Linked DNA regions of Homo sapiens. The protein of the gene in region 4 interacts with the protein of the main gene of each other region in a pairwise test. Each region holds a gene or a part of one and is shown on either strand. Other genes may lie near its edges.

Region 1 (8,157 bases), on a different chromosome or scaffold from region 4:
GGAGGCCGGAGGTGGTGACCCAGAATTCCTGCTGAAAAGGGGCTCATGGGCTGCTGTGAATTGGAAGGGAAACTAGAAGCTTCCTTGCAGTAGCTTTTACAGAAGCTAAGAAAGTGCCCTGGTCACATAATGGTGGTCGATTTTTAGAGACTGTGCAAGAGAACATCTTACTCTCATTACTCCCACACACACACACACCCTCACACACACACACACACCCCACACACCCTCACACACACACACAGCCCCCCACACACCCACACACACCCGACACACCCACACACACCCAACACACCCACACACACGCACCCCACACACCCACACACACCCCACACCCACCCCCACACCCACACACACACCCAGACACACACACCCTCACACACACACACACCCTCACCCTTGATGTTAACCCTGAGGGGCTTAATAGTCAGGTCTCCCACTTACTAACTGCATGACCATGGCACGTTATTTCTCTTTTCTGTGTCACAGCTTCTTCCTTATAAAATTGGATTCACAACACTTTTTTTTTTTTTCTTTTTTGAGACAGGATATCGCTCTGTCTCCCAGGCTGGAGTGCAGTGGTGAGATCTCAGCCCACTGCAATCTCTGCCTCCCGGGTTTAAGTGATTCTCCTGCCTCAGCCTCCCAAGTAGCTGGGATTACAGGCGCCTGCCACCATGCCCGGCTAATTTTTGTATTTTTAGTAGAGACGAGCCTGACCTCACCACGTTGGTCAGGCTGGTCTCAAACTCCCGACTTCAGGTGATCCACCCGCCTCGGCCTCCCAAAGTGCTGGGATTATAGGCATGAGCCACTGTGCCCGGCCCACAACACTTTCTACTTTGAGGTTTGCCATGGAAATTTAATGAGTTGATAGATGCATAGTATGTATCAGGGGCCCGGCAAGTCATAAGGGCACCGTTGATATTAGCTGCTATTATTTTTAACCCATTTTATAGATGAGGAAACGAAGGCTCAGAGAGAGGTGGGCCACATTCAAGGCAGTGGTGGAGGGGAACTGTGAAATCGGCTCTCGGCCAAGGGGCTCCTGACTTGTCAGATCATCTCTGCCTGGATTGGAGAGGGGTGGCCAGATAGAAGCCAGGAGTGGCCAGAGGAGAGAATCAGGGTAGGGGAGTCAGAAGGAAGATAAACAGAATATGTGTCGGGGGAGGGCACCAGAGAGTCTTCAGGGGGCACAGGATTTGAGGGGGTGGGAAGGGTGGGGAGGCAGCTCCCCTGCCCTCAGCCTCCTACTCTCCCACAGGGACCAGCAGAGGGTGCTCTGTGGCTCAGCTTCAGCAGAGGCTGCTGGCCCTGCTGACACCCCTCTGCTGCTCCCAGGGCTGTGCCCAGCTGCGATCCTCCCATCTCTGACTGGGTCCTACCTCTCACCCAGATTCCCGCTTGCCAAGTGCCCAGCACAGGCTGCTGGAAGATGCGGCTGGAGCTAGAATCAGGGCTGGGGGACATAAGGTAGGCCTTGGCTTGGCCTCAGCTTCCTTTCGGAGAGTGGCTGAGGGCATTGCCGAGATGGAGAGGGCCAGGCCCCCTGTCCTAGAACAGTTGTTCAGGAGAAATGGAGCAGAAGCAGAAATCAGAGAACCCTGGAGTCAGCTACCGGCCTGAAGTCGGGGAGGCCTGGCCACTCCATCCACTGCTGGGAGTGGATTATCTGTCCTGCTAATCCCAGACACTGGAGGTGGCTAGGCAGCTGTCATGCTAGTCTCAGTCACTGGAGGTGGCTAGGCAGCTGTCCTGCTAGTCCCAGTCACTGGAGGTGGCTAGGCAGCAGCCTGGGAAGATGTGGCTGTGCTAGCATCTATTTCTGCAGCCCCGGGTTGGGGCAGGGATGAGTGGGCGGCCTCCTACCTGCTGCTGTCTTCCAGGGCCTCTGCTGAAGTTTTCTCCACAGTCCTCCTTAGGGCTCATGCATTTATCTCCAGAAGTCCAGTTACCTCCTTGCCATCCCAAGCTGCCTGCCTCCTGGATCAGGGCCCACGCCTCAGCAGTGGTCTGCTTCTCCCTCGTCCTGATCAACACGAGGCTAGCCTGTCATCCGTAGGCTGCACCTGCCTGTTAATATTCCCCCTCATGGCTGCTCCTTCTCTCTTGCCCATGTCCCTATCATCTTCCCTTTGCCAGGCACTGTGGCCTCCCATGCATTATCGTTTTTATCCTCTCAGCAGCCTTGTAGGGCAGGAATGTGAAACTGAGGCTCAGGGAGATTTGCCAACTCCAGGGGCCCAAAGGTAAAATGTGTGGGAGGGGAGGAGACATTGAGCCCTAGACTGTCAGAGCCATAGCCTGTATCCAGTTGCAACACAAGACTCACCCCTCTGCTGTAGAATCTGGGCCATGCTCTGCTTTCACCTACCCACCCTCTACCTGGCCCTTGGCCGGATCCCACTCCTGTGGGACCTGAGGGTGGGAGATGGGGTGCCAGGCAGCCAGTGGTAGAACGTTTAAGACTCAGGCATTCAATGGAGACCAAGCCTTGGCCTATTAGGGCCACCGGACCCTGGGATCTGTGTCTTTCTTCCTAGGGGAAACTTTTCCTTCTTTCTGTATCATTCCATCAGATTGATTCAGGGGAAGGGCCACCTACCCTCAAATAAGTAGAGAGCCGAAGAGCCCTGAGTAGCCAGATGCCATCTCATGCCTCCCTCTGCCCCAGTGTAGCCAGGTGCCAACCTCCCTCCACCCAGGCCTTCCTTGGCCCCCCTGCCATGTGTCTAAAAGGGGATGGCAGAGGGGATCAGGTGTGGCTCATGACCCTGGTGTCTCCACCCTGGGTCTTCTCTCTCTCAGCCCTTGGAAAGAGATAAAAAAACTCCCTAGCCCAGAGGGAAGACTGTCAAGTCAGGATGCAGGGCTTTAGAGAGGGAGCCTTTAGGCCTGACCTTGTGGACACTTGACACCAAGACCTGCTAGCTGTGGGGGATGCACCTGTCTCTAGTGTTTGATCTGACCGCTGATCTTTGCCTTCTCTACTCCTCCCCCAGGTGGCCAACCTCTTGAGGCTATTTCAGATCCCACAGATTAGCTACGCCTCTACCAGTGCCAAGCTGAGTGACAAGTCCCGCTATGACTACTTTGCCCGCACAGTGCCTCCTGACTTCTTCCAAGCCAAGGCCATGGCTGAGATTCTCCGCTTCTTCAACTGGACCTATGTGTCCACTGTGGCGTCTGAGGGCGACTATGGCGAGACAGGCATTGAGGCCTTTGAGCTAGAGGCTCGTGCCCGCAACATCTGTGTGGCCACCTCGGAGAAAGTGGGCCGTGCCATGAGCCGCGCGGCCTTTGAGGGTGTGGTGCGAGCCCTGCTGCAGAAGCCCAGTGCCCGCGTGGCTGTCCTGTTCACCCGTTCTGAGGATGCCCGGGAGCTGCTTGCTGCCAGCCAGCGCCTCAATGCCAGCTTCACCTGGGTGGCCAGTGATGGTTGGGGGGCCCTGGAGAGTGTGGTGGCAGGCAGTGAGGGGGCTGCTGAGGGTGCTATCACCATCGAGCTGGCCTCCTACCCCATCAGTGACTTTGCCTCCTACTTCCAGAGCCTGGACCCTTGGAACAACAGCCGGAACCCCTGGTTCCGTGAATTCTGGGAGCAGAGGTTCCGCTGCAGCTTCCGGCAGCGAGACTGCGCAGCCCACTCTCTCCGGGCTGTGCCCTTTGAGCAGGAGTCCAAGATCATGTTTGTGGTCAATGCAGTGTACGCCATGGCCCATGCGCTCCACAACATGCACCGTGCCCTCTGCCCCAACACCACCCGGCTCTGTGACGCGATGCGGCCAGTTAACGGGCGCCGCCTCTACAAGGACTTTGTGCTCAACGTCAAGTTTGATGGTAATGGTGTTGGCCAGTGTCCATTGGCCTGCTGGCTGTCAGAGGATGAGGGGAAGCAGAACTTCAGCTTCCATTCCTTTGCTAAGGAAACAGTAGAGTGAAAGTAAAGGACTCACCTGGGGTGGCGTCAGAGCAAGGGCAAGGATGCTAGGCAGAGAGGACTCCAACTGAAGCTACGGCTGAGGTTCCACTTTCTTCCAGAGAGTAGACCTCTGGCCTGGTCCCGCCATTTTGAGGGTCTCTGGCTCCTCCTTGGGCCTTGCCCACTGTCTTCTGTCTCCTTATCTTGCCAAAGGTGGAGACCAGGAGACCTCAAGCCCATTCTCAGGCAGCACCAAGAGTTAGAATCAGTCTGGCTTGAGGGTGAGCATCAGGATGACGCTCTATATTCACGGAAAATGTCTTTCTGTCTTTCTTTTTTCTTTTCTTTCTTTTTTCTTTCTTTCTTTCTTTCTTTCTTTTCTTAGATGGGGTCTCACTATATTTTGTAGGCTGGAGTGCAGTGGTTATTCACAGGCACAATACAGCCTCCAACTCCTGGGCTCAAGCGATCCTTCTGCCTCAGTCTCCAGAGTAGCTAGGATGACAGGCATGTGGCACTGCTCCTAGCTTCAGGGAAAATTTCTATTCCTAATCTTGATTTTCCACTCAAGGTGACCTGAAAGTCTCCTGAAATCAAAAGTTATTTTAATAAGAGTGCCAGCTTTAAGAGAAATGACTGCTGCAGATCATCACTATGCTTCAGGAAGAATCACCGTGGGAACAGTGGGAGACAAAGCTTGGAAGCCCTGGCCCAGGGTTAAGATGAAGAGTACTTCCAATAGAACTGACATTCAGAGTTAGCTACAATCAGTGTAGGGGTTAGGGTTGGAATCTGGGGTCCGATTTGGTTGATGTTAGAGCAAGGCTAAATTCAGCATGTTTGGCTTGGGTGGAATTTATGGTAGGGCTAGAGTTGGATTTTGAGAACTTTTAGGCTGAGTAGAAAGAGTAGGTGCTTGAGGGGACCTGGGTTTGAATCTAGGCTGCACTATTCACTCATGGGGCCTTAAGCATGTCTTCTGCTTTCTTGAACCCTGATTTCTCACTGGGGCCAGGGATGGCTGTAAATCCTGGCTAGAGCCTGGCTGGGAGATGTGAGGTTTACAGGGGATGAAGTGGGGGTGGAGAGAGGAAGTGATTTTCCAGCCACTGACCACATTCTGGTGAATGGCAGTGGTTGCAGGTGACCAGTGAGGTTGGGATTCAGTTTGCACCAGGATGACTGTTAGGACTAGGGGTGCTGGAGCTGGGGTTGTTGTTAGGATTAGTGGGGACAGGATTGGAGCTGAGACTGGGTTTAGCCTTAGCATTGAGTTTGGGGAGAGGGCTGTAGTGTATGTTTCGATGAAGTTGGGATTTGGAGCCTGGGTTGGAAAGTGTTGGATAGTACTAAAGTTGAATTTGGGGAGTCATGGTTGGGGATTGATGTGGGCATTAGGTTTTTGGAGATGTCTGGGCTTTAAGGCTGGGATTACATTTGGCATTTAGGGTTGGGGTTTGATGTTGGAGTTTAGGAGTAAGACTTTGTTGTCATCTCTCATTTAGAAAAATGATTGGGGTCAAGGCAGGATTTAGTATTGGGTTAAGGATTGGAAGGGCTAATGGTGGTCTTAGCTCTGGCATTTGGGTTCCATGTTAGGGTGAATGTTGAGGTCACATCAGGGTAACACACTAGTCCAACCTTCTCTTCCTTCCCTCCCCCATCCTAGCCCCCTTTCGCCCAGCTGACACCCACAATGAGGTCCGCTTTGACCGCTTTGGTGATGGTATTGGCCGCTACAACATCTTCACCTATCTGCGTGCAGGCAGTGGGCGCTATCGCTACCAGAAGGTGGGCTACTGGGCAGAAGGCTTGACTCTGGACACCAGCCTCATCCCATGGGCCTCACCCTCAGCCGGCCCCCTGCCCGCCTCTCGCTGCAGTGAGCCCTGCCTCCAGAATGAGGTGAAGAGTGTGCAGCCGGGCGAAGTCTGCTGCTGGCTCTGCATTCCGTGCCAGCCCTATGAGTACCGATTGGACGAATTCACTTGCGCTGATTGTGGCCTGGGCTACTGGCCCAATGCCAGCCTGACTGGCTGCTTCGAACTGCCCCAGGAGTACATCCGCTGGGGCGATGCCTGGGCTGTGGGACCTGTCACCATCGCCTGCCTCGGTGCCCTGGCCACCCTCTTTGTGCTGGGTGTCTTTGTGCGGCACAATGCCACACCAGTGGTCAAGGCCTCAGGTCGGGAGCTCTGCTACATCCTGCTGGGTGGTGTCTTCCTCTGCTACTGCATGACCTTCATCTTCATTGCCAAGCCATCCACGGCAGTGTGTACCTTACGGCGTCTTGGTTTGGGCACTGCCTTCTCTGTCTGCTACTCAGCCCTGCTCACCAAGACCAACCGCATTGCACGCATCTTCGGTGGGGCCCGGGAGGGTGCCCAGCGGCCACGCTTCATCAGTCCTGCCTCACAGGTGGCCATCTGCCTGGCACTTATCTCGGGCCAGCTGCTCATCGTGGTCGCCTGGCTGGTGGTGGAGGCACCGGGCACAGGCAAGGAGACAGCCCCCGAACGGCGGGAGGTGGTGACACTGCGCTGCAACCACCGCGATGCAAGTATGTTGGGCTCGCTGGCCTACAATGTGCTCCTCATCGCGCTCTGCACGCTTTATGCCTTCAAGACTCGCAAGTGCCCCGAAAACTTCAACGAGGCCAAGTTCATTGGCTTCACCATGTACACCACCTGCATCATCTGGCTGGCATTCCTGCCCATCTTCTATGTCACCTCCAGTGACTACCGGGTGAGCTACCTGCCACAGAGGTCGGGGGAGATGGGACACCAGACCCTCTGTTTCCTGGTATCTTATTTAATCTACTGGTAGCTCTGGGGTTCCAAGAGGATAATGCCCACTCAGGGGACCACAGCTTGTGTGGATCCCAAGGGGAAGGTGGGAGGGCTGAATAGGACCTAGGGAAATGGCCAGGGAGGTGGGGAACTCGAGTTAGAGAGAGCTGAGATTTCAGGACTTGAATGTCATCCCCTATCCTGGAAGGTGATGGGGGTGCAGAAATATGTTCAAATGGACAGGGTTCTGCCCTGCTCCACTGAGGGGTCATCTGCAGAAGGGGTTGAGAGATGAAGCCAGGGAAGGCAGGAAAGATGAAGCAAGGTGGGTAGGGGAGGAGATCCAGGGTATAGAGTTGAGAAAAGCTAAAGCAGGTGAAAATTGTTCCCCAGTTGGTGGCTTCTGAGCAAATTTGGTTCCAACTGGCACTGTGTCTCAATGGGTCTCCCCAGCTCCAAGGGGCAATGGCTGCTTCAGATAGGGTGGTCAGGGAAGCCCTCTCTGAGGAGGTGACAGATGAGCTATGTTCTGAGTAAGAAGATTATCTTGGTTAATCTTCATAACTTGAGTAAGCTCCATGGCTCTCCCGTTTTACAGATGAAGAAACAGAGACTCAGGGAGGTTCAATCCCTTGCCCAAGGTCACTCAGCTTGGGAGTGCAGAGCAGGGTCTGAACTGCAGAAAAATTGAGGCGAAAGCCCCGGCAAAGGCCCCTTCCCCAGGACAGAGGTGTGGTGGCACAGTGCTGGGGGCCAGGGACCGCTGGGCTTGGCTGCTCTGCTTGCACCTGCTGGGCCACCTGCTTGGGTGGTAGAGGCCAGGGCTGGGGAGGGATTCTGCTCTGACTCAGCCTGCATTTGCATATGATTTGCATTTGCATGCCAATCACAGGCAGCTAAGGACTCACCTGAGACACACACCGTACCCACACATGCATGCACACACACACACACACTTGTACACACAGACATAGCCACATGCATGCATGCACACACACATATCCCACATACACACACTCGCTGGCACACACACATATATCTTCCTGACAAATGAATCCATACCCATGCACCCTACACTCACGCACACATACACTCACGCAGACACCTGCAGAAATTCACCACCCCACATACATGCACTTACACAGATATACACACACACCTACATGCACGCACTCCATTCCTGCAGCCCCCAGATGCACACACCCCTGTGTATACATGCCCCCCTGCATGTTCTCCCCTTCAGCTGGAACTCTTGTCACCCTGGGAAAATGGTCTGGGTCTGATGCTGGGACTGTGCCCAATTTTCCTAGCAATGCTTTGGGATCCGGCAAATGGACCACAGCCCAGTGTTGGATGCTTAGTCTCCCCCACTCCCTCCCCCACAGATCAGGCAGGGGGTCCTGGGGTCAGGCCCAGGTCTTGACCTGTGCTTGTTCACCCACT
Region 2 (7,450 bases), on a different chromosome or scaffold from region 4:
CGGGAAGAGGCCAGTTGTTGCAGGAGTAGCTGTCCCTAGGGGCAGAACCCAAGTCTGAAATTGGTCTCAGTTAGAGACAATGGGTGTCTCTTTCGGGGTCTTTGTTCAGAGGCCTCAGTTTCCCCATCTGTGACATGATGGAGTGAACTGACAGTGACCTCCCTAATGCCCTCCTGCTCTGAGATTTGACACTGTGGCATTGTTGTGCCCAGGCTCAGCCTGGCATTGGCGCTGGGCCCTATCTCTCATGGCTGTCTGAACCAAGGCCACGTGGGTTGGACTTCTCACATGGCCAAAGAGATCACAAGGTTTAGGGGCTTGAGATTTTTGCCCTACAAGTTGGCTAGTCCTAATAGGTGACCTCCATCTGCGACCTCAGTGAGCCCTTGGCTTTGTCTCCACTTCCATAGAATGGGGTTGACCCTTCACCAGTCTGGCCATGGGCACAGCCACGGCACCACCAACCAGCAGGAGGAGAACCCCAGCGTCCGAGCTGCCTTCATCCATGTGATCGGCGACTTTATGCAGAGCATGGGTGTCCTAGTGGCAGCCTATATTTTATACTTCAAGGTCAGAGCTGGGACACAGGGTGGTGGGGGTGGCAGGGGAGTGTAGACCACCTGAGTATACTCTCTACCGGGGTTTCTTTTCAGATTCTAGCTCCCTCCCAGTTCTAGGGAAAAGGGTGGGGAGAGGAAAGGAACATTTATCCAATACCTACCAAGTGTCAGCACTTCTGATCCTCACAACAACCTGAAGGGTAGGTGGTAGTGTTTTCTGTAGCTCAGAAAGGTTCAGTGACTTGCACAGTGTCACACAGCCGGTAAAGCATAGAGCCAGATTCAAGCCTACGACTGTGTGTTGTCAAACCCTGGGCAATGCCCATCACATAGAGGCAGGGAGCTGTAGTGGAAAGAGGCAGGCATTTGCTCTGAAGCTTGGCTCTCCTCCTTGCTAGCCATGTGACATTGGATGAGTTTGCTTGCTCTAATGGAGCCTCAATTTCCCCATCTGTCAAATGGGGACGGATGGCGGATCAGATGGTATCTAAGATGCCTTTTTGCTCTGTCCATGTCTCAGCTCCTTGAGAAGGAGGGGTGGGAAGGGACTGCCTTATTCTGAACTGTGGTCTGTCCTTTCTGCTCTTGCAGATGTGAAATAAAGAGCAGAAAACTGGGAGGCAGGGCCAGGGCGAGGCTCATGCCCACCCAGCAGAGAGAGCACCTCTCCCCAGCAGTGCTGGGTGGGAGGGGAGAAGGGAAGCTGAGGTGTTAGATGGTGAACTCCAGGTCTGCCTTCCTGTCTTCCTGCAGCCAGAATACAAGTATGTAGACCCCATCTGCACCTTCGTCTTCTCCATCCTGGTCCTGGGGACAACCTTGACCATCCTGAGAGATGTGATCCTGGTGTTGATGGAAGGTAACCTGGGCTTTGTGGCTCCCTTTTTGCTCTTGGCTCTCAAGCGCTAATCAGCTCAAATAGGGTATGTGTGTGTCTGGGGCATCCTAGCACATGGGCGGGGAGCCAGGATCCGGAGCCCCGGCATAGGCTGGAAAACCTCCTGGGGCCCCTGGGCTGATCTTGACATAGAGCCTGGGCTTTCAGGTGTGGCAGTTCCTGGAACCGTCCCCCAGCCCGAGTCTTCCCTTCCCCCTACCCCTAAGGGTGCCTCCTCTGCCTAGTCAGGTGGCTTCTGGGGGACATCTGTAGCATCTGGAGCTCTCCAGCCCTCCCCTATACACTTCCCCAGGCTCTGGCTGCCTTCTCTCAGGAAGAGAGAGGGGGTGAGGATTATGCTTCTCATTGCACAGAGGGGCAGACTGAGGCTCAGAGAAGGACAGTCAGCCTTGGACAAAGCTACTGAATCCACTGCAGCGCAGGCCTTTCCTACATCTCAGGGACCAAACAATGCCACACCCTGTGGGGACATGGCTGTGCTTTGTGGGGTTGGAGAACGGTCAGTGGTGGAGAATGATCTGGTCTGCCCTGAATTACCTTTTTTTTTTCTTTTTTCTTTTTTTTGAAACAGGGTCTTGCTCTGTCATCCAAGCTAGAGTGCAGTGGTGCCACCAAGGCTCACCGCAGCCTTGACCTCCTAGGCTCAAGTAATCCTCCTGCCTCAGCCTCCCAAGTAGCTGGGACCACAGGCGCATGCCACCATGTCTGGCTAACTTTTAAATGTTTGTAGAGATGGGGGGGGGGTCTCACTATGTTGCCCTGGCTGGTCTCGAACTTTTGGGCTCAAGCAATCATCTCACTTCGGCCTCTCAAAGTGCTGGAGTTACAGATGTGAGCCACCACACCTGGCCCTGCACCTTGGCTTTCTTATGCTCTAGGCCTGGGGTCTTGGGCCAGGGTCATAGGCCTCTGCGTGGTCAGGGTCAGTCTGGAATGGAGTAGGATGCTGGCCTGGGCTTAGCAGTATTTGGCTGCAGGTCAGAGCTTTTTCTCCAAGAATATGCTAACCCAGATGAAAGCGATAATGATGAAGATGATGATCGTGCCCTGGGTGGGTCCAAGGATTCTCAGGATCTGTTCTTTCCTTCTTTCCATTCAAAAATATATTTATTGGCCAGGTGCGGTGGCTCACACCTGTAATCCCAGCACTGTGGGAGGCCGAGGCAGGCAGATTACCTGAGGTCAGGAGTTCAAGACCAGCCTGGCTAACACAGTGAAACCCTGTCTCTACCAAAAATACAAAAATTAGCCGGGCGTGGTGGCATGCGCCTGTAGTCCCAGCTACTCAGGAGGCTGAGGCAGGATAATTGCTTGAACCAGGGAGGCAGAGGTTGCAGTGAGCCAAGATCACGCCACTGCACTCCAGCCTGGGTGACAGAGCAAGATTCCGTCTCAAAAAAAACCAAAAAATATATTTATTGAGCACCTACTATGGAGTAGGTGCTGTTTTAGGCACCAAGGATACTGTGGTAATCAAAGGAGACTGTCCTGCCCTCATGGAGTGTCCATTTTAGAGGGAGAAACTGACAATAAGTACATTCATAAATAATTTCAGTGTTAAGAGTGGAGAGGAAATACAACAGAGTGATAGGGCAGAGACCTTGGGAGGTGAAGGCAGCCTCAGACCTGCAGGCCAAAGAGGTCTTCTTTGAGGGGATGACACCTGAGGATCAGGAGCCAGCCCTGCACCAATGGGCAGGCGTGGGAGGGGTAGTTTCCTTTAGTTTCCCCTGTCCTTGCCGTCCTCAGGGACCCCCAAGGGCGTTGACTTCACAGCTGTTCGTGATCTGCTGCTGTCGGTGGAGGGGGTAGAAGCCCTGCACAGCCTGCATATCTGGGCACTGACGGTGGCCCAGCCTGTTCTGTCTGTCCACATCGCCATTGGTGAGTGCTTGGGACACTCAGGGTGGGGTGGGAGACAGGCAGCCAAAGGCCTAGTGCCATCCCCAACGGGTCCAGGTGACCCCAGATGCTCACAGTGCCCATGCATCAAGCCCAGCCTCATGCTGAGTACTTGATACGCATTATTCCATCTGATCAGCACAATCTCATTTATCCATGAAGAAACTGAGGCTGGGGTTGGGTGGTAAAGTTACTTGCCCAGGCTTTTACAGCTAGTATATGGCAGTAGGTGGCAGATTCCTGGCCTTAAGGCCAGTGCTTTACCAGCTCTTTCAGGCATGAGCCAGGTCTGGGCTGGGAGGCTACCTGGCAGAGGAATGGAATCTGGGGGCTTCTCCATGTTCATGGTCCCCCATCCTGTTCTGCTGGGGATGGGGTATGAGATTTGGGCTCCTGATGGTTCCAAAGGGCCAGAGTAAATGGCTTCCCCCGCTGTGTCCTCTCGGCCCCCAGCTCAGAATACAGACGCCCAGGCTGTGCTGAAGACAGCCAGCAGCCGCCTCCAAGGGAAGTTCCACTTCCACACCGTGACCATCCAGATCGAGGACTACTCGGAGGACATGAAGGACTGTCAGGCATGCCAGGGCCCCTCAGACTGACTGCTCAGCCAGGCACCAACTGGGGCATGAACAGGACCTGCAGGTGGCTGGACTGAGTGTCCCCCAGGCCCAGCCAGGACTTTGCCTACCCCAGCTGTGTTGTAAACCAGGTCCCCCTCCTGACCTCTGCCCCACTCCAGGAATGGAGCTCTTCCCAGCCTCCCATCTGACTACAGCCAGGGTGGGGACTCAGCGGGTATAAAGCTAGTGTGACCCTGCTCTTCCAGCTCCTGGGCCAGCTCTGGAAGGGCTGTATTTGGGCCTAATCCTCAGCAAATGTTCTACCACTCGCAGGGGCAAAGGTGGTGAGCCACGGGACGTCCAAGGGGAGGCTGGCCCCAGCGCGCCCATACTGCCTGCCTCATGCCCCATTCTCAGCCTGGCTGGCCTTTGCCTTTATGAATCTGAGCCCCTCCATCTGCCTATAGCAATAGGCACGGGGGTGAGGACCCTCACACTCTCATTTGAGCCTCCCTGAGGCAGGGAGCCAGGAGGCACCTGAGGCCTATCTGTGCCTTAGTCACTTCAGCTATGAGCCAAATGTTCCCTTTCCTGGAGGGGAGAGGCTTCTTACTAGGTAAGAGACAGGTTTCCTCTTTCCTTATTTCCTCAGCTGTGCCAACACAAAAAACAACTTTGGCACAGGTGGTGGGCAGGGGGTAGAGAGATTTCAGCTTGGGTTCTGCACTAACAGCCTCCAAGCCCCCTGGCACTTCTGTTGCCCTGAGAGTGTCCCAGGGGATTCAGAGTCTCCAGAAAGATATGGCTGGGCCAACTCTGTTGCCTACCTGGCCTGACCCAGTCGGAGCCTGACATGGTGGAGGGAAAGGGAGACAAGTGGGGCTGCACTCGGTCCAGAGGCCAGCTAGGAGGGAAACCGCAGCTTCCTGGGGCTTGTGTGTGAAGATTCCTGACTTAGGGGTGGCTTTTGTTTACAAGATGCAAGAGGGGAAACCTGTCCCCGACTCATCGAGACAACATGCCCAGTTATCAGGGAGTCCTGTGTCACAAGGTCTGTCTCTGCCATTGTAAGCAAGTGCCTTGGGCGAGCTGGCCTCTGCCCCACAGTCTCATCTGTACACCGACAGGGTTGATGCCTCCCTCACAGGGTTGAGAACAAGAGCCAGTTGGCCAAGTACCTGTGGTTGTTGAAGATTGGTTACTTTTACCATCCTGGGGACAGGGAACTCTGTGGCCCGAGGCTGCCTCACTGAGGAGTCAGGTGGGCTTCCCAGCCTCCCCAGGGGCAGTGCTGAGTTTGTCTTGACTGTTCTGGCCCAAGGTGGGAGGAGGTGGGTTTGGTCACTTGCCTCCCACTTTAAATCTCTGTCTTTCCATCTGTGAAATGACCTCTTTGTGCCTTCCCAGCACTGTCATCCTGATCGCCTGTGTTCTAGGTAGGTGGGTCCTTCAGCCCCTCCAGGTCTGTGAAAAGTCTGTGGAAAGCACTGGCCTGGAGAGGGGTGGGGGGTTGCTGGTGGGTGCTCCATTCCACCACAATCTCAGGGGACTCAACCTCCCCTACCCAACTCCCCACCCCCACCCAAGCCATGGCAGGCCCCAGGAACTTGATCCTGGGCTTTGCCGTATGCCAAGTCCTTACACCCCTCTCAAGAGACAGTCATTGGCTGGGCACGGTGGCTCATGCCTGCAATCCCAGCACCTTGGGAGGCTGAGGCAGGCAGATGACTTGAGGCCAGGAGTTCGAGACCAGCCTGGCCAATATGGCGAAACCTCATTTCTACTAAAAATACAAAAACTAGCCAGGCGTGGTGGCTTGTGCCTGTAATCCCAGCTACTCGGGAGGCTGAGGCAGGAGAATCGCTTGAACCGGGGAGGCAGAGGTTGCAGTGAGCTGAGATCACACCACTGCACTCCAGCCTGGGTGACAGAGCGAGACTCCAGCTTAAAAAAAAAAAAAAAAAAAAAAAAAGGAGACCATCACTGCTGTCCTGCATTCTTACAGATGAAAAAACAGGCTCAGAGGTTGAATCGTTTTCCTGAAGTCAGACAGCCAGTGCAGGCAGGTCTGGGATTTCTGCCTCATTTCGGTAGACCTTCCTCTACAGCAGGGTCTGGGGGCCTGTCGGTCTGCGCTGCCTGTTGGTACAATACAAACCCCTGGGACCAGCAGTGCCCGGCCCATGGGTGAGGACATGCCAAGGCAGTTCAGTGTCCTGGGTGTCACAGCTGTGATTGGAAAGGTGCCTCTTTCACCTGGCTGGGCCTGGCATCCAGCGCCCTCCCCACCCTGGGAAGGCTGCCTGGGCCCCAGCTGTATGCTTTCCCACCCACCCTCAGTTCTTGACTCCGGGCCGGACTGCCTCTCCCCCACCTCTTTAATTTCCAGTCCGCCCTGTACCTCAAGCATCTCACAGCACCACGCCTCCCAAGGGTAACCCACTCTGCCACTCAGCTGTGACTGGCTCTAGGGAGGACCTGAGTCATCCAGGGGCCCGCCGAGGTCAAGCTGGGGGGTGGGGGTGGAAGGCCTTGGAGAGGCCTAAGGGGACAGTATGTTCCTGCCAGTGAGACAGTCACGGGAGTTTCCAGAGCTGCCAGGCCATCAAAGCAGGAAAACACCTGACACCCTGGACCTGGGCTGGACCCACCACCCTCACCCTCTGGAGTCGCACGCGCTCCCAGGCGAGCCCTGAGCCCTGAGCCCCTCCCTCGAGCAGCTGCTGTAAGGGTATTTATAGCCTGGAGCGTGAGGGGGCAAGGACACGCGCTTTATTTCGGAAGTGATAATTCCAGCTCCAGGTGGGTGAACCCCGGAGGACCTAGTGTCCCCCCCCAACTCCATTCTCACCTATACCGCTCGGGACAGTCCCTGCTCGCGCCCAGCCCACCTAGAAACAGTCCCTTCTTGCTGAGTTCCAAGTGTGCAGGCGAAAGAGATGGGGCTGTTCTTCAGATTTCTCTTCCCAGCTTTCAGCCCCCGAGCTGCCCACAGCGCTCACCCTCCACATCCCGGCCGCCCTCTGGACATGCGGGTGAAGAGTGCGGCGCGACGCTGACCTCTAGTGGTCGGCCTTGGTAGTGCAGGGCAGACGGCCGAGGCTGAGCCGCGGGCCGTGCGGGGACAGGCCACTTGTTCCCATCCCGCTTTCCTCGCCCCACTCCTCGTTTACCCGCACCCCTCTGCTCCTTGGTTGAGGCTCAAGGATTGAGCCTGACAACCCAGGCGTCTTTGGGTAGTTGCCTTCCCGGGACTAGGAACCCTAGGAATGGGTGGCGGGGTGGGGCGGGGACAGTTCTGTCTCTCCGCTCACCCTGTCCCGCCGCCGCCCTCATAGGGCCAGGCACGCAGTTAATGTCTGCCATCCATCTATTCGTCAAATATTTGCGGCACACCTGCCTAGCCAGAGAGAAAAGGACACGACACGACCCGCCCCCCGGGGCTCGCAAGCCAGTCCTGGGGCCTGACCGTGCGGGAACCGCGGCAAACACTGGACTGCGAAAGCGCAAAGGAGACCGAACCCATTGGG
Region 3 (8,188 bases), on a different chromosome or scaffold from region 4:
CCAGGTCATGTGCAAGGACTGTATAAAGGTGTCAAAAAACTTCCTGCCACTTACTTGAGGCTCATCCTAAGCAATAAAAATGTTGGAATTGCCTGGACATGTGGCTCATGCCTGTAATCCCAACACTTTGGGAGGCCAAGACAGGAAGATCACTTGAGACCAGCAGTTAGAGACCAGCCTGGGCAATACAGTGAGACCCCAATCACTAAAAAAAGAAAAAAAAAATTAGCTGGGCATGGTAGTGCACATGTGTGGTCCCAGCTATTTAGGAGGCTGAGGCAGGAGGATAACTTGGGCCCAGGAGGTTAAGGCTGCAGTGAGCCAAGATTGCACCACTGCACTCCTGCCTGTGTGACACAGCAAGATCCTGTCTGTTAAAAAAAAAAAAAAAAAAAAAAGGAATCACAGGTCTGATAAGTTGTTATGCTTTCTTTCTTTTTTCTTTTCTTTTTTTTTTTTTTGAGACAGAGTCTCAAAAGTGCAGTGGCACGATCTCCGCTCACCACAACCTCTGCCTCCCAGGTTCAAGCAACTCTCCTGCCTCAGCCTCCTGAGTAGCTGGGACTACAGGCGTACACCACCACGCCTAGCTAATTTTTGTATTTTTAGTAGAGACAGGGTTTCACTATGTTGGCCAGGATGGTCTGCAACCCCTGACCTCGTGATCCGCCCACCTCAGACTCCCAAAGTGCTGGGGTTACAGGCGTGAGCCACCTAGCCCGGCCCTGTTATGCTCTTTCTAATGAATACTGAAACTATAAAGATGGCCAGCTATGGTGGCTCACACCTGTAATCCCAGCACTTTGGGAGGCCGAGGCTTGTGGATCATTTGAGGTCAGGAGTGCAAGACTAGCCTGGCCAATATGATGAAACCCTGTCTCTACTAAAAATATGAAAATTAGCCAAGTGTGGTGGTACATGCCTATAATCCCAGCTACTTGGGAAGCTGAGGCAGGAGAATCACTTGAACCCAGGAGGCGGAGGTTGCAGTGAGCTGAGATTTTGCCACTACACTCCACCCTAGGCGACAGAGTGAGACTCCATCTCAAAAAAAACTGTAAAAATAAACATTATAATAAAAAGCTGTCAGCCATTGATGTACCTTTACCACCCATTGGTGATAATTGTACCACATTTTGGGGAAACATTGTTTTAACTAAAGAGTGTTATTGTTTTGTTTTTAGAGATAGGGTCTGGCTCTGCCGCCCAGGCTGGAGTGCAATGGCATGATTGTAGCTCACTGCAACCTTGAACTCCTGGCTTCAAACAATCCTCCCACCTCAGCCTCCCGAGTAGTGGGGACTACAGGTGCATGCCACCATGCCTAGCTAATTACTTTTAAATTTTTAATAGAGATAGGGTCTTGCTATGTTGCCCAGGCTGATCTCTAGCTCTTGAGCTCAAGTGATCCTCCTGCCTCAGCCTCCAAAATGCTAGGATTACAGGCGTAGGCCACCGTGCCCAGCCAAAGGTGGACAATAAATTGTAGAAAATAATGGATAACCTTCTGAGCAAAGGAAAATGTAAGATACAAGAATTAAATAGCATATTAGAAGAGAGTGAATGACAAATGAAGAGAAAGGTACACTAACACCTCAGTTACCTGCTAGAGAGAGACATTCATCCAGCCTAGCCAGTCATTTCCTTCTCCTTCCTCCCACCACCTCTTTCCTTCTGAACCTCTGGTTCAGATGCAGAGTCCTTAGCCTGTAACTCTGGATCGTTCAACCCATCAGCACATAAGAAACTTGCTCTTCTGAGAATGAAAATAAGCAGCAACACAATTTCCTTAACAACCAAGGATCTTATAGAGGCAAGAACTAGAAGTAAGAAGAAAACACATACTAGGGACAGAAGACATGGACTGGAGGTCTTGGGCCAATTAGGTGACCTTATTCCTATCTCAGAGCCTCTCCAACTCATGGCTTCCTCAACTCATTCATTTAACAAATGTTTTCTAAAGCAATGACCGTGTACCAAGAGTTGCCTCATGCACTCGGGCTGCAGCAGTGAATAAAACAGGAGAGGCCCTGCCCTCAGAGATCTTGTGTCCTAGTGAGAGTGACAGGCAATACATACTAAATAAATAAGCAGTGTAACTTTAGGTGGTGAGCAGTGCTATGAAAGAAATTAAACAAATGATAAAGACAAATTGGGGAGGAGGCATCCTGTGAAGAGGTTGGTCAGGGGAGGGCTCCTGGGGGAAGTAACATTTGAGCTGAGACCTGAATGTACTAGGAAGGGCCAGCCAGGAGATAAGCCAGGGAAAGAAGGTTCCAGACAGAGGGACAAGCAAGCCTTGCGGTGGGACCGCTCTCGGGGCTGGCTGCCAATCCAGGAAAACAGCACTGGGTATGCAGTTGTACTAGGTGAATGGTTTTGACACAGCACACCAAGCAGTCCTACAGTTCCCTGGTGGTGTCTCAAGGGCGGAGGGGCCAAGGACAGAGACTCTGCCAGACTCACGCCACCCTGCCCAAAACACACACAGAGAACGAGAGAGAGAGAGAGAGAGAGAGACGCGTGCACATACTCTGCTTCAACAAAACAGCTCTTCTTTAATCCGAAGTGTATATTGGGTGGCTGCTTAAGATTTTGTTCGAGGACCAGGTTCAGGGATCAGAAATTCTTGATCTCAAAAGTCCTTTTCCACACTTTGTTTGATTCTCTGCAATGTTACACAGCCTCAGCAGTGGTCATAGAAGGGTTCGTTCTATTCTATCCATTGGCAAGGAGTCACAGAGTGCAGCTCCCAGCAATCTGGCTCTCCTCTCACCGTAACATCCCACCCTTTCCCCTCCAGCAGTGGACTGGAACCTCTGATGCCTTCCAAGCCCATCCCAGCTACAGAGGGACACACATCTCTGCCTCTTCCTAGGAGATTAGACTGATTTCCTTTCCTTGCACTGTCCAAATGAGACGCTTTCTGTCCTACACAGTAGAGCTTTGTGAAGACAGCCGAGAAACGGCTCAAGTTTTTTCCAACCTGTAAAATGCAAAGTTGGCCAGCTGCCTCTCTTCCTAGCCTCAAAACTCATATATTTCCTGTCTCCCCGGCAGCTCTAAGAGAAGTCTCTACTGTCCTGGGGTTTGGGGAAAGCACTGCTCAGAATGTGAAATCATTTTCTGGTAATACGGATCTAATTAGCTCTTTGACTGACAAGAGGAAGCAGAGGCCAAAAGGGAGTTAACCAATCTGTTTTTCAGATATTTCAAAACAAGTGAAGAACCAGATAGGGAAACAGAGAGAAAGAGAAAATAAAGAGACAAAGCCTAGGGAGCATTTGGAGAAGGGAGTGAGTAAGAAGAGAACGGGGAGGGAGAATATCAAGTGACTAAAGTATCAATCCTCTGTTCTTCCAGCTTCACCTCTACTCCCGGTCTCCCCTCTGCTCTCTTCCAGAGAGAACTTACTTGAAGGTCGATGTTTTCTCTTGCTGATTCCATCTCGCTGCCCTCAAGTCCCTTCACACGCACCGGGTGCCGGGAACAGACTGCGTGGGCTCCTCCAGGCTCCGCCGTCTGAGTCTCTGCTGCTTTCTTCGGGTGGGAGAGAGCACACAGCTGGCGGGACAGACCTGCCATTCATCCCTCTGATGTGGGATGCCCGTCTTGGCTGCAGCCTCTGGGGGAGGTGTGCACCTGCACACACGTGTGAGTGTATGTGTGTGCACATGTGTGTGCTCCAGGAGGTGGCACATGGCACACTGATAGGTGACCTTTTGAGTTGGTAGTGACAGCATCATTTTCACCAGTGGCTCCAGTGACCTTCCAGTCCCAGCGGAGCCATCTGAGGTCACCCAGCCTGCTTTGAGCTAGTAGCTTTATGACTGGCAAAGAAATCCTGCATGTTTATCAAGCAAATTGAAAAACAGCCTGAGGACAACGCTATCTGACTTCACCGCTGGGTCCAGTCCCCAGTCGCCACGGGTGGAGTGACCTCCAGCACAGTCTCAATACTGAGGCAGAGGGATTTCCGTTGTTCTTTGCTTTGTTCCCTATATCCCTAAAAGTTTTTAAAAAAATTGTAGTTTACCTAATAGGCTCCAAAGCATAGGCTTTGTTCTGCAAAGTGAGTGAACAATACGTTTTTACTGACGGATTGTTTGATTCCTTCAACTCCTCCCTTGATTAGCCATAGAGGGAGCAGGGAGTAGTTGTACCTTCGAAGCTTGTTTATGCAAACAGTGGTATTCTCCCTACTTTTAAAATAAAATTACCAGGAGGGAGTCTTTTTTTAGAAAGTTTTTTTTTTCCTCTCCTGTTTACCTTAGAGCCCAAAACTCTTCTGGCTTGTTCCTGAAGCAAGGTTTAGACACAAGCTTGTGCAGGTGTGGGTGTGGGTATGTCTGTAGACGTGCATGGCAGGGTGTTAACCTGTAATCCAATTCAGGGCTTGAAGAGGTGCGGGCAGGAGGAAGACAGGCAGAGTCAACACGTTTACCCTCACCACATTCAAATGTAAAAAAAAAAAAAGGCGATTTCTTCAGTTCTATGAAATGCCTTTATAAGTTCCCATCCCTCTGGACAGTGGTGCGAGGGAGGGTTGGATGATTGGATGGGGGCCATATTTTAGTCTAATCTATGAAGCATAGTTGGATTTAATCATTTAAATGGTAAACAGTCCACTTTAGACACAATGCTCAGTCTTTCGGATTTGCAGAAGATGGCACCTAGGTGCACAGGAGGGCGGGGTGGGGACGGTTCTTGCATCTATCCTGTGGCCTCTCCATCTCGGCTCCTTTCTGTTCTGGAGCTGCTGGGCCCACGGGCCCGCCCGAATTGCTGACTGCTGAGGAGACACAGGTCCTGCTCCTGGGTCTTCTGCTGGCCTTGGTGGCTGATGTCTGATATTAGGCCAGAGTCACTCATGGGTGATTCTCTTTCTGCCTTTGAGATCCAGTGTTCTCCCTTGCTGTCTGCGCTACCTTGGCTCGTGGCAATGTGGACCATCCTGAGACCTGGCTTTGACTTGTATGTGCCCCCATCCCACTGTATCCGCTCAGTGGCCCACATCTCTAAGATAAGCCCCTCGAAATTTTCCTGTGAGATGCTTGACCAGTGCTCCTGAGCCCCCTTAGGCACATGGGGACTGAGGGCTGCTGACGAAGGGCAGGGGAAAGGCAAGCTCAGCCCCACTTCCAGCAGAGTTTGCTCTGATGTGGCTGCTCCAACTGACACAGGGCAGTCTGCGAGGTGATCTCCTTCCACATTCCTGAATGGAAATGAGACCTGGAACCCACTCTTCTCAGCACTCCTTAAAAAGTCTACCAGTAATATCTATCACCCCACCGCTCATAATAATACCACTATGTATCAAGCACTATTCTAAGCACTTTTTTTTTTTTGAGATGGAGTCTCGCTCTGTTGCACAAGCTGGAGTGCAGTGGCGCCATCTCGGCTCACTGCAACTTCTGCCTCCTGGGTTCAAACGATTCTCCTGCCTCAGCCTCCCGAGTAGCTGAGATTACTTCTTCCCATAGTCCCCTTAATCTAGAATCAGAAAATGTACGCTTTGTCTTCTTTTTTTTTTTTTTTTTCCTGTTTGGCTGGGATGTATCTGATGTAGAACTCTATGACAACAATTCAAAGGGAAATGAAGAAATTTAGAAAATCCTCTCTCTCAAGAAAACCTGGTTGTCAAAAATATTGTCTTGGCTGGGCAGCATGGCTCATACCTGTGATCCCAGCACTTCGGGAGGCCAAAGCCGGAGGATCTCTTGAGCCCAGGAGTTCAAGACCAGCTTGAGCAACATAGTGAGATCCCATCTGTAGAAGAACTTTTTGGCTGGACATGGTGGCTCACACCTGTAATCCCAGCATTGTGGGAAGTAGAGGCAGGAGGTCACTTGAGCCCAGGGGTTCAAGACCAGCCTGGGAAACACAGTGAGATCCTGTCTCTACAAAAAAAAAATTTTTTTTTAATTTAGCTAGATGTGGCAGCTTGCAGCACCTGTAGTCCCAGGTACTTGGGAGGCTGAGGTGGGAGGATTGCTTGAGCCTGGGAGCTGAAGGCTGCAGTGAGCTATGATCATGACACTGTACTCCAGCCTGAGTTGACAAAGCAAGACCATGTCTTAAAAAAAAAAAAAAACTTTCTGGAAAACCTTATTTCGGATGCCAGAAGCAAAATATTAACTATTTATTTCTCTTTGCACTCCTGTTGTGAAAATCCTCATTATCTTTTAAATAATATGGATACATCTGGCTGAATAGAGGGAAACAGGAACAAAAAAATGCAAAAGAGAAAAGTACTCGAATATATTTCAAAAAATTTCCTATTAATAAGCACATTGGTTTGAAAAGGAAACAGCTGTAATTGGTTATAATAATGGTTTTGGTTTGGCAAGATCTTTCTGGATTTGGACCTTTCCCCATCTCATAAGCATCATTTGGAAGTAAACAGAAAAAAGGCTTTGGAAAATGGTTTATCTACCATATCACGCTGTAACCCTGGACCAGGGGTCAGCAAAGTTTTTCTTTTTCATTTTTCCCTTTTATAAAATTCAAATTGCTATATGAAGCTTTTTTAATTTTAATTTTAATTTTTTGAGACGGGGTCTCACTCTGTCACCCAGGCTGGTGTGCAGTGGCACAGTCTCTGCTCACTGCAATCTCTGCCTCCTGGGCTTAAGTGATCCTCCCACCTCAGGCCCCAACCCCCAGCCCAGTAGCTGGGATTACAGGCGCGTGCCACCATGCCTGGCTAATTTCTGTATTTTTTGTAGAGACGGGGGTTTCGCCATGTTGCCCAGGCTGGCCTCAAACTCCTGAGCTCAAGCGATCCGCTCACCTCGATCTCTCAAAGTGCTGGAATTACAGGCGTGGGTCACCATGCCCAGCCAGTAAACTTTTTCTGTAAGGGGCCAGAGAGCCAATATTTTTTAGCCTTTGTGTGTCATATGGTTTCTGCTGCGATGACTCACTTCTATAATAATGTGAAAGCAGTCATAGACAACATGTAAATGAACGAGTGTGGGAGTGTTCCAATAAAACTTTATTTACAAAAAGAGTCAGATATTCATAAAAACAGACCGGAGTTGGCTCCACAGGCTATAGTCTGCTGACCCCTGCTCTAGGATTTAATCAGAGTCTTTGAAGTCTAATTCCCACTTGAGAGGCAACTACTGAGTCTCTACCACGTGGATATTGGGTTAAACACTGCGGGGATATAAAAGCACCACATGCACGCCCTGGTGAGACAACTGATGGCAAGGGAAGCTGTAGTGAAGAGTGTTGCTGCCATTTGGCTGGTGCTGAAACTGCACCTACGTGGAGGTTATCACTGTGGGTGGAAATGGTTTCTATTGTTCTTTACTGCTAGGGTGATTTTTGTGGTGTAAAGCCAGAGGGACATTTTTAGGGAGACTGTCTCTTGGAAAGCATATTTTGGAATATCCTTGAACTTACAGATAAGTAGACACTCAGAGTGACTCAGAAACTACTCTGAGTCTAGTTTCATGGAATGAGGGGTCTACAATGAGACCCTAGGTATCTTGCTATGTAGAAGGAGCAAAGCATTGTTGTAGGGTACTGAAGAAGGCAACAGCAAGAAGATCCTTTAATTTTGAATTGTGGGAAAAGCTCTAGGGTGAAAGCCAGGTGGCCTGGATTCCTCTCTGTGTGCTGAGTCACTGTGTTTTTAGGCAAGTCACTTAACTTCTCTGGGGCTTACATTCTTGTTTGTGAATGTGAAGCTATCAAAAGAGTTGATTCCTAAGATCCCTCTAGCTCTTAAATTCTGTTTCTAATGTGTGTTTTGGCCAGGTGTCGTGGCTCACACCTGTAATCCAGCACCGAGGTAGGCAGATCACCTGAGGTCAGGAGTTTGAGACCAGCCTGGACAACATGGTGTAACCCCTCTCTACTAAAAATACAAAAATTAGCTGGGCCTGGTGGTGCATGCCGGTAATCCCAGCTATTTGGGAGGCTGAGGCACAAAAGAATGGCGTGAACCCAGGAGGTGGAGGTTGCAATGAGCCGAGACCACAACACTGCGCTCCAGCCTGGGTGACAGAGTGAGACTCTGTCTCAAAAAAAAAAAAAAAAAAAAAAAGTTTATATTAAATACTTCCTGTGTAACAATATAAAATCTCAGATACAGGTCTGAATTTCAGTGTGTAAAAGTTGAGGGCTAGAAATTATTGGCTTTTTAAAAAATTGAAGCAGAGCAAGAAGAATCTAATGC
Region 4 (7,905 bases):
ACTGAGCTGCCCTCTTTCCTCTAAAATATTCATAACCACTGCTACCATTTGTCCAGAGCTTAGATGCTTGCGAGGCTGTTTCACAGCATGTCTCATTCAATCTGCTCAACAGTCCTCTAAGTGGCCCTTCCATTGGACATCAGAAACATAAGTTGACTTGCCCAAGGTCATGCATTGGTGAATGGCAGATCTGGGACTCAAACCCATGTCTAACTCCAAATCCCACAATCTTTCATTCTCCTAGGCTGCCTCCACCAGAAAACGGTTTGGATAGGCTGCAACTTTTTACAAAGGAGATACTTGAATACTTAGCCAGTTCTAGGTCTAGGGCTAGCTCAATTAGTTAGGATCCAGAGCTAATGAGGCTACAGGCCCACATTTGGTTCCAGAGGGCATCATTTTCTCCTCTAGCCACTCAACGGCCTTGTCTGGTTGTCCTACCTTTAGTCATAAGATGTCCATGGCACAGGCTGCAGCCCAGAGTAATTGGCTTCAAGACTAGAATCATCTCCAGAAGCAGCCATGCTCTGGTGGAGGGCCAGTAGCCTTGTACTTCTAGATCAATGGTGAGTGCAGGACTCTCTGACCACAGCCATCGAGTACACCCATTGCTGCCTTTGGACCTGGACATCTGAGGCCACTGCCCTGGGGCCCATGTTTTAGAGGGCTCTCTTGGTCTCTCTTCTAGCCACACTCTTTCACACGGGGTGAAGAGTCTGTGGGCCAAAGGGCCTAGCCCAGGCAGAGCCCACACCCCTCTTGTAGACTATGCTCAAGCTGCTTAGGACCCCAAACGCCCTGCCTAAGTGCATTCCAGAGCATTCTCAGGCCTCCGATGCAGATCTGTGCTCCTGAGAGTGGCCAGGCAGACTAGGCCTGAGGAGTGGGGTAGGGGCCATGCACCCAAGGTCCTAAGGCCCTTCCCAGTGAGGGCTGGCACCAGGAACTGGAAAAAAAAGAGGGCCAGGTTGTGAGCCAGGAACTTCTATCAGCACTTATGTTCTGCCACCCACAAAAGTCAGGGGCGGGCCTGACAAGAGGTAAGGGGAGCTAGGGCTGGCTAGGTAGCTTTCTCCTAGAATAGAGAGCCTAGTGCTAAAGAGGAAATGACTAAGCCTGGCTTGTTAGAAAAACCAAGCCTTTGGGTGAAGGTAGGAGTCATTGCTAGGTCAGAGGTAAGGTGCCAGGACATCACAGCCTCCTGACAGAGCTAACCCCATGTGCAAGACTGCCCACAGCAAATTCCCCTGCCCACCTCTGAAGGTTATTATTTTTATGAATAGCTACTACTGGGTGAGTGCTTAACAGATTCTAAATAATTCAGTTACCATCTAATTAACCTTCCACAGCTCTAAGGCAAATAATGCAATTCTCCATATACAGACAAGGAAATAAAGCTCAAAGAGGCCATCTATACGAAGTGCCCCAGGTCACCCATCCTATAAGTGGTAGAACTAATGTGCTCACTCAGGCAATTTAGGCTGCGATGCCCCAATGGAATTATAAAGATAAACCGATAGCTACGAAAACAGAGCTCTTTACAGCAAAGAGGACCTACAAATTTGAGTATTACTAAGGCTGTTATCCTCTCTGACAATAGGTTCATTGAATCATTCAGTAAACATTTATTTTAATTTTTAAAAATATTTATTTATTTGTTAAGACAGAGTCTCTCTCTTTTGCCCGGGCTGGAGTTCAGTGGCGTGATCTTGGCTTATGGCAACCTCTGCCTCCCAGGTTCAAGTGATTCTCCTGCCTCAGCCTCCCTAGTAGCTGGGATTACAGGTGTGTGCCACCACTCCCTGCTAATTTTTTGCATTTTTAGTAGAGACGGGGTTTCACCAAATTGGCCATGCTGGTCTTGAACCCCTGACCTCAGGTGATCCCCCCGCCTCAGCTTCCCAAAGAGCTGGGGTTACTGGCTTGAGCCACCATGCCCGGCTATTCAGTAAACATATAATTGTCTGTGTCTACATGCCAGAAACCTTGCTGGGTTATGAGACAGAAAGATGAGTAAGTTACAGCCCTTGTCTTCAAGAAATGTAGAGCAGGGGTTCTCAAACTTCAGCAAGCCCCAGAATCACCTGGAAGACTTGTTAAATCACAGATTGCGAGGCCCGAGCCCTGAGTTTCTGATTCAGTGGGTCTGAGTAGGGTCCCAGCACGTGCATCTCTAGCAAAGTCCCAAAAGATGTTGATGCTGTTGTCCTGGAGAACCCACTTTGAGAACTACTTTGAGAACCACTTTGATAAAAGTTAGGGCAATCAAGATCCTCTCCATAAGGCAACGTAGAATTGCACTGCTCTCCCTTCCCTGAGCAAGAAGCACAAGGATAAAACGAACCTCAGAGTCACCCTTGAAGGAGGAAACCATCCCAAAGCTTCTTCAAGCGCTGCAGAGCCATAGATGGTGGCCTCGCTGAAGTCTCCCTGTGAATGGGAGGCAGGCGAGCACCATCCCGTGAGCCCTCATGAGTGTGTTCGGTGTTTTATACTCCTGGCTGGCTGACACGCTTTCCTCTAGCCCCTCTAGCTGCCCATCCCTGCAAGCCCACAGCAGTTACCCTGTCCAGGTTCAAACCTGGTGACATGCTTGGGGATCTTACTACCAACCTGAGGGAAGGGGCCAGAATTCCCGGGAATGTCTTTTCAGATTACTTGCATTTGATTTCAGGATGCATAAGAGAGGGCAGATGTCCCACATTGGCATGAACTGAGAATGAGTCGTCCACCTTGTGCTTTTCCTCTCCTTCCTGCAAAAAGTCCCAGAAGACGATCAGCAAGGAAAGCAGCCGCTAGGGAAGGCAAATAAAAAATAAATAGAAATGCACAATTGGCTGGGAGCCCCTAAGGATTAACTAACTAATTAATCCCACAACAGTTTGACCAGGAACTAATTAATCCGTTAAGCACTTGGAGGGCCCAAGGCCCTGGCCAAGAGCAGGGAGAGGCTTCACTTATCTCCGGAGGCTGGCGCGGAGTGGGACTGTCCTCCAGGCTCTCCAAGGAGGGCCTGGGTGAAGACTGTCCTTCCCAAAATCAGTGGTTCCTGCTGCATCAGAAATCTGCTTCTCAAGCTATTTCTTGAGCCAGACTCCTGTGTCACTCTGCCCAGGGAACCGAATCAAAGAAGAGAGCCCTGAGGAAAGGCAGCTGGGCTTCAGCCCCTCCAAGGATGGGAGCCACAGAGTGTTAGAACTGGAAAAGACTTCAGCCATCTCGTCCTTCCAACCCACTTTCCAGATGAAGAATGAAGTTTCCAGGTTACCTGGTGTGCTGTTTGGACCTAGAGACAACTGATGTTTCTTTCTGATCATTCCTACATAGCACCCAGACAGGGAGAATTCAGATCTCTCTTTAGGTGCTGTCTTTAACTCCACCTCAGAAGTCACCAGGTGCAGAAATCTTTCTTAAAGCAATGTAGTCTGTTTGACTAAGATCGTCATTTTTTAATATGATTTTTCATGAGCTTTGGTAACAAATTTAAGGCTGGTCACAACATATTCAGGTGGCTCTAACATAGATCTTTCCTCTCATTAGCTTTTCTGACACTCTTTTTAATCTTCTGTTTCCCTGAAACCCAGGTCACCTCATGTTACAACCTGATCTCCAAAAAATCTGACAGCAGCCATCTGGGGATGTAAGCTACTGTTAACCTTTCCCAGAGAATATTTTTCTTTAGACTCCTCTCTCATTACAGAACAAGAGACTCTATAGCCTAAGTGGTAAAAGAATCTCAGCTGAGTATGGGGGTGCATACCTGTAGTCCCAGCTACTTGGAAGGCTGAGGTGGAAGGATTGCTTGAGCCCAGGAGGCCAAGGCTGCAATGAGCCCAGATTGCACCACTGCACTCCAGCCTCGGTGAAAGAGAGAGACCCTGTCTAAAAAAAAAAAAAAATAAAGGAATCTCAAAGACCAGGCAGCATGCATTAAGAAATTCTAGAACAGACACTCCTAAAATCACAAAATGAAATGTGCAAGGCGCTTGTGACAGCGTCAGCAACACCGAAGGCTAGACTGCCAGTATGCTGAGTGGCGGCCATGCCCTTGATGGTTCACTTAATACATGTGTACTGTGTGCTAGACTCCAGTCCAGGTGCTAACGGTGGAAAGTTGAATCTGACAAGAGCCCATGACGGGCTCCCTGTCTAGTGGAAGGGAGGAAAAGAGCCATGATTAAGAAAAAGTTGCCACTAAGGTGTGATGAGTGAATTAATGCATACTGTCTAGTTACTATAAACTGAGACCTCATCCTCTACAGTGGGGTCAACCAGGTGAGTGGGTCTTGGCATGGGGCTGATAGAATCTGCAAGACTTGCAAAGCTGCCCTTAGGCAGAGTTGGGGTGTGATGCCCCAGCTTTTGTGTGTATCAGCATCACAGAGAGAAAGACATTCTTAAAAATCCAGATGGGGTTGGGAGTGGTGGCTCACACCTGTAATTTCAGCACTTTGGGAGGCCGGGGTGGTTGGATCGCCTGAGGTCAGGAGTTCGAGACCAGCCTGGCCAACATGGTGAAACCCCGTCTCTACTAAAAATACAAAAAAATCAGCTGAGTGTGGTGGTGCACACCTGTAATCCCAGCTACTGAGATTTACTGAGGCAGGAGAATTGCTTGAACCAAGGAGGCAGAGGTTGCAGTGAGCTGAGATCGAGATACTGCACTTCAGCCTGGGCAACAGAGCAAGACTCCCTCTCAAAAAAAAAAAAAAAATTCCAGATGGCTGGGCTCCATCTCCAGAGTTCCTGATTCAGTGGGTCTGGGATGGGGCCCAAGAATTTGTAGTTCCAGCAGGCTCTAGATGATGCTAATGCTGCTTGTCCAGAGACCACACTTGGAGAACCACCATGCTGGAAGGTTCTGATCGACGCAAGGTGCCATGAAGAAAGGACCCCCCTACAGAAGCCCCCACAACTGCCATCAGGACCAGGCTCTGCTGCAAGGCCAAGAGTGCCACTCACTTCCTGTATTCTCTAAAGACCTTTTCCTGCTGCTTTTAAAATTTATTTAGTTAGTGAGTTAGTAGTTTAGAGTTATTTATCTATCTCTATTTATTTTTCACATAGAGTGAAATGGATGAGAATCAAATCCAGATGGCTGGAGATGATGTGGATTTACCTGAAGATCTCCGGAAAATGGTAGATGAAGATCAAGAAGAGGAAGAAGATAAAGATTCTATTCTTGGGCAGATACAGAATCTCCAGAACATGGACTTGGATACCATAAAAGAAAAAGCCCAGGCCACCTTCACTGAAATCAAGCAGACAGCGGAGCAGAAGTGTTCCGTGATGTGAGGGGTGGGAGGGGTGGAGGGAGGGAACCAGCCATCCTTGGAAAAGACCACTCTCTTGTGGGACGTTTCAAGCAGTACATGTTTTAATGTAGTGAACACAGTTAGGAAAACCACGATGATCCATTGACAGACAATAATTTGGTTGTTCTAAATATTCCTGGCAGAGCATTTAGCTAACACCTTGCAGCGGGAACCTTACTTTCCTTTTAGTTATAAATGAGATAAACTGGAAAATTTCAGTTGTAAATGATGATGCAGAACACATATCTGCTTAAAGACCTTGAGATGAGCCAGGAAGAAACAAAAGCAAGGGGCATTTCCTCTCCAACTTTCTTCCTTGGAGGCCAAGTTCTCACCCTGTCCAACTATTCGCAGGACACCAGGTCCCTTCAGAGAGAAATGTGGAGAGTCAAGGTGTCTACTGGGAGCCGGGTTTCCCACAGGGAGCTGAGTCTACAGACTCCAGGGCAATCAAAGGTCACCACCCCCACCCCTCACCTCTAGGATCCTTGAATTTGTCAATGATACTCATCAAGTATGCTTGGATCCTTTGGTCCTTGGATGCTTCTCAGCCAAGTGGCGGTAGCACAGATGTGGTGAACAATGACGAATTGAGGCAGGGAATAGACCTCACTAGCCCTTTGCAATGGAGATCATCGTTCTAGTGGCCATGTGAAGAATGGAACCAAGGGAGGCACAATTAGAGGCAGAGGGAAACCAGGCAGACGGCTGCTCTTTTTGAGTTGAGCTTAACTCTCCTTGTCTGAACTTGGTGATAGCAATGGGAACAAAGTGGGTAGACTAACAGAGAGCATTAAGAAGTTAAATCAATCTCTCTCTGTCTCCTCCCAACCTCTCTCTCTCTTTCATCCCCTTCTCTCCCTATCTCTCTTTTTTTTTTCTTCTCCTGTCCCTTCCCATCCCACCCCTTTAGACTACCTTCCAGTAAATCACACTGTCATTTGGTGCCACAAGCTTTCAGGGTAGACACTGATTTTTCCCCCCTAATATCTGCTCTCTTTCAAAAGGAATAATTCAAAAGACTTAGGACAATTACCACTGAAACACTTCGAGCTATTTAGCTAAAGCCCACCAAACCAAAACAAAATACTGATTTTTTTTTTTTTTTTTGGTGACTCTGTTCATACAGTGAATAAAGATCTATCAAAGGAAAAGGAAACTGAGACCGAAAACTTAGGGTCTAAGTTGTTCTAAACCCAGGGTTCTCAAATGTGTTGTACAAAAAGTTTCATGTAATAAAATTAAGCAAATAAAACAAATGAATAGAGGTCCAAAACCTATGGTCCTTGGCAAAGTTTAATCTGTCTTGGAAATTCCTGGGAGAACATTGGTGCAATGATTGAGGCTGATTAGCCTTCTAGTCCACAAACCCAGATGCCATGGGCACATTTTAAAACTGTGCTTGTCTTTTATCAGAAATGGCATGTGAGTTGTGATTTGTTTTATAGCAGAAACTTTAAAAAACTCACTTTTTTAAAAACTACAATATAATAGATAACATTTATTTTCAGTTTAATGCCTGACTCTGCCCTGTAGTTGGTGAGGTGGGTAGTATGGATGGGTGAGAGGTGCTGTATGTGGCCTGATATCTGTACACTTTGTATGACATAAAATACTACAGCTGCCAAATTGTTCCACACTCTAGCCTCAGGATGACAAAGAAGATGTGCTTTCTTGTAAAAGATGCAGCCAGTTCTGCTAAGGAAATCACTAAATTGGCACTTCCTCTTGACTGCCAACATTACTCCAATGCAATTTGGTCGTTGTCTCAATGAAGCTGCACAGCTGCTAGAAGACTCTGACCATGATTCCTCTCATATCACACCATACAACCCCACAACACAGCCCAGTATATCACATCACCCCACATCACATTACACCAGACCACAACCTATCACACCACATTACACTACAACGCACCACCCCACACTAAACCACCCCTCACCATGCCAAACCACACCACCCCAATCAACACCAAATCACATGTGTATGGGTTGGGAGAGGGAGGACATGTATTAGGGCATCCAGAAGGCCCCTTTCTCTCTAGAGGGTAGATAGGTGTCTGTGCTGTATGATGTTGAGGAGCACAAAAAGGTCTCCCATCATCAAAACCTAGAATCCAACAATTATTAAGGACTACGAGGGAATCTATTCCAATCTCCCATACAATAAAGGGACCCTTCCCAAACTGTCCCAGTTGAGCCTTATTTGAAAGCTTCCAGTGGTACAGAAGTCACTATCTGCTGCTCCAAGGAAATTTAACCACCAGCTCTTCCATTTGTAGACAGCTCTAGTTGTTAGAAAATCCTTCTTTGTCTTAAGCTGAAAATGGTTGCATCTTTAATCCATTGGTCATGGTTCTGTTGAATTAAACTGCACAGATTGTGCCTACATTCCCACTCAGGCTTTGATATATCCCCTCTCAGTTTTCTCTTTTTCAGGAAGACATCCTTACTTCTTTTTGTCAATTCTTATCATACAGTAGGAACACTGTGAACCCACTGGGTAATTGAATGCTGACTGCCCATGTCTAGGAGTGAAGCCAACCATGCAGAAGGCAGCAATGCTGTCCCCTTCCACACCCTGCCAC

Evidence for each region.
Region 1: the proteins of CPLX4 (region 4) and GRM2 interact in binary tests that used the Homo sapiens proteins (3 or more experiments, as listed by UniProt).
Region 2: the proteins of CPLX4 (region 4) and SLC30A2 interact in binary tests that used the Homo sapiens proteins (3 or more experiments, as listed by UniProt).
Region 3: the proteins of CPLX4 (region 4) and NINJ2 interact in binary tests that used the Homo sapiens proteins (3 or more experiments, as listed by UniProt).

The regions. Positions count from the first base shown.
Region 1 is NC_000003.12:51,709,468-51,717,624, forward strand, and holds part of GRM2 (metabotropic glutamate receptor 2 isoform a precursor), read left to right. Parts: intron 1-1,231; exon of another isoform or gene 1,232-2,252; intron 2,253-3,005; coding exon 3,006-3,843; intron 3,844-4,496; coding exon of another isoform or gene 4,497-4,516; exon of another isoform or gene 4,517-4,557; coding exon of another isoform or gene 4,558-4,654; exon of another isoform or gene 4,655-5,594; coding exon 5,595-6,670; intron 6,671-8,157. UniProt on the Homo sapiens protein: Dimeric G protein-coupled receptor which is activated by the excitatory neurotransmitter L-glutamate. Plays critical roles in modulating synaptic transmission and neuronal excitability.
Region 2 is NC_000001.11:26,035,669-26,043,118, reverse strand, and holds the end of SLC30A2 (proton-coupled zinc antiporter SLC30A2), read left to right. Parts: intron 1-410; coding exon 411-570; intron 571-1,313; coding exon 1,314-1,419; intron 1,420-3,207; coding exon 3,208-3,342; intron 3,343-3,813; coding exon 3,814-3,959; 3' UTR 3,960-5,867; downstream 5,868-7,450.
Region 3 is NC_000012.12:659,914-668,101, forward strand, and holds the start of NINJ2 (ninjurin-2), read right to left. Parts: upstream 3,533-8,188; 5' UTR 3,448-3,532; coding exon 3,415-3,447; intron 1-3,414. UniProt on the Homo sapiens protein: Its role in unclear. In contrast to NINJ1 paralog, does not mediate plasma membrane rupture (cytolysis) downstream of necroptotic and pyroptotic programmed cell death.
Region 4 is NC_000018.10:59,294,088-59,301,992, reverse strand, and holds the end of CPLX4 (complexin-4), read left to right. Parts: intron 1-5,067; coding exon 5,068-5,295; 3' UTR 5,296-6,591; downstream 6,592-7,905.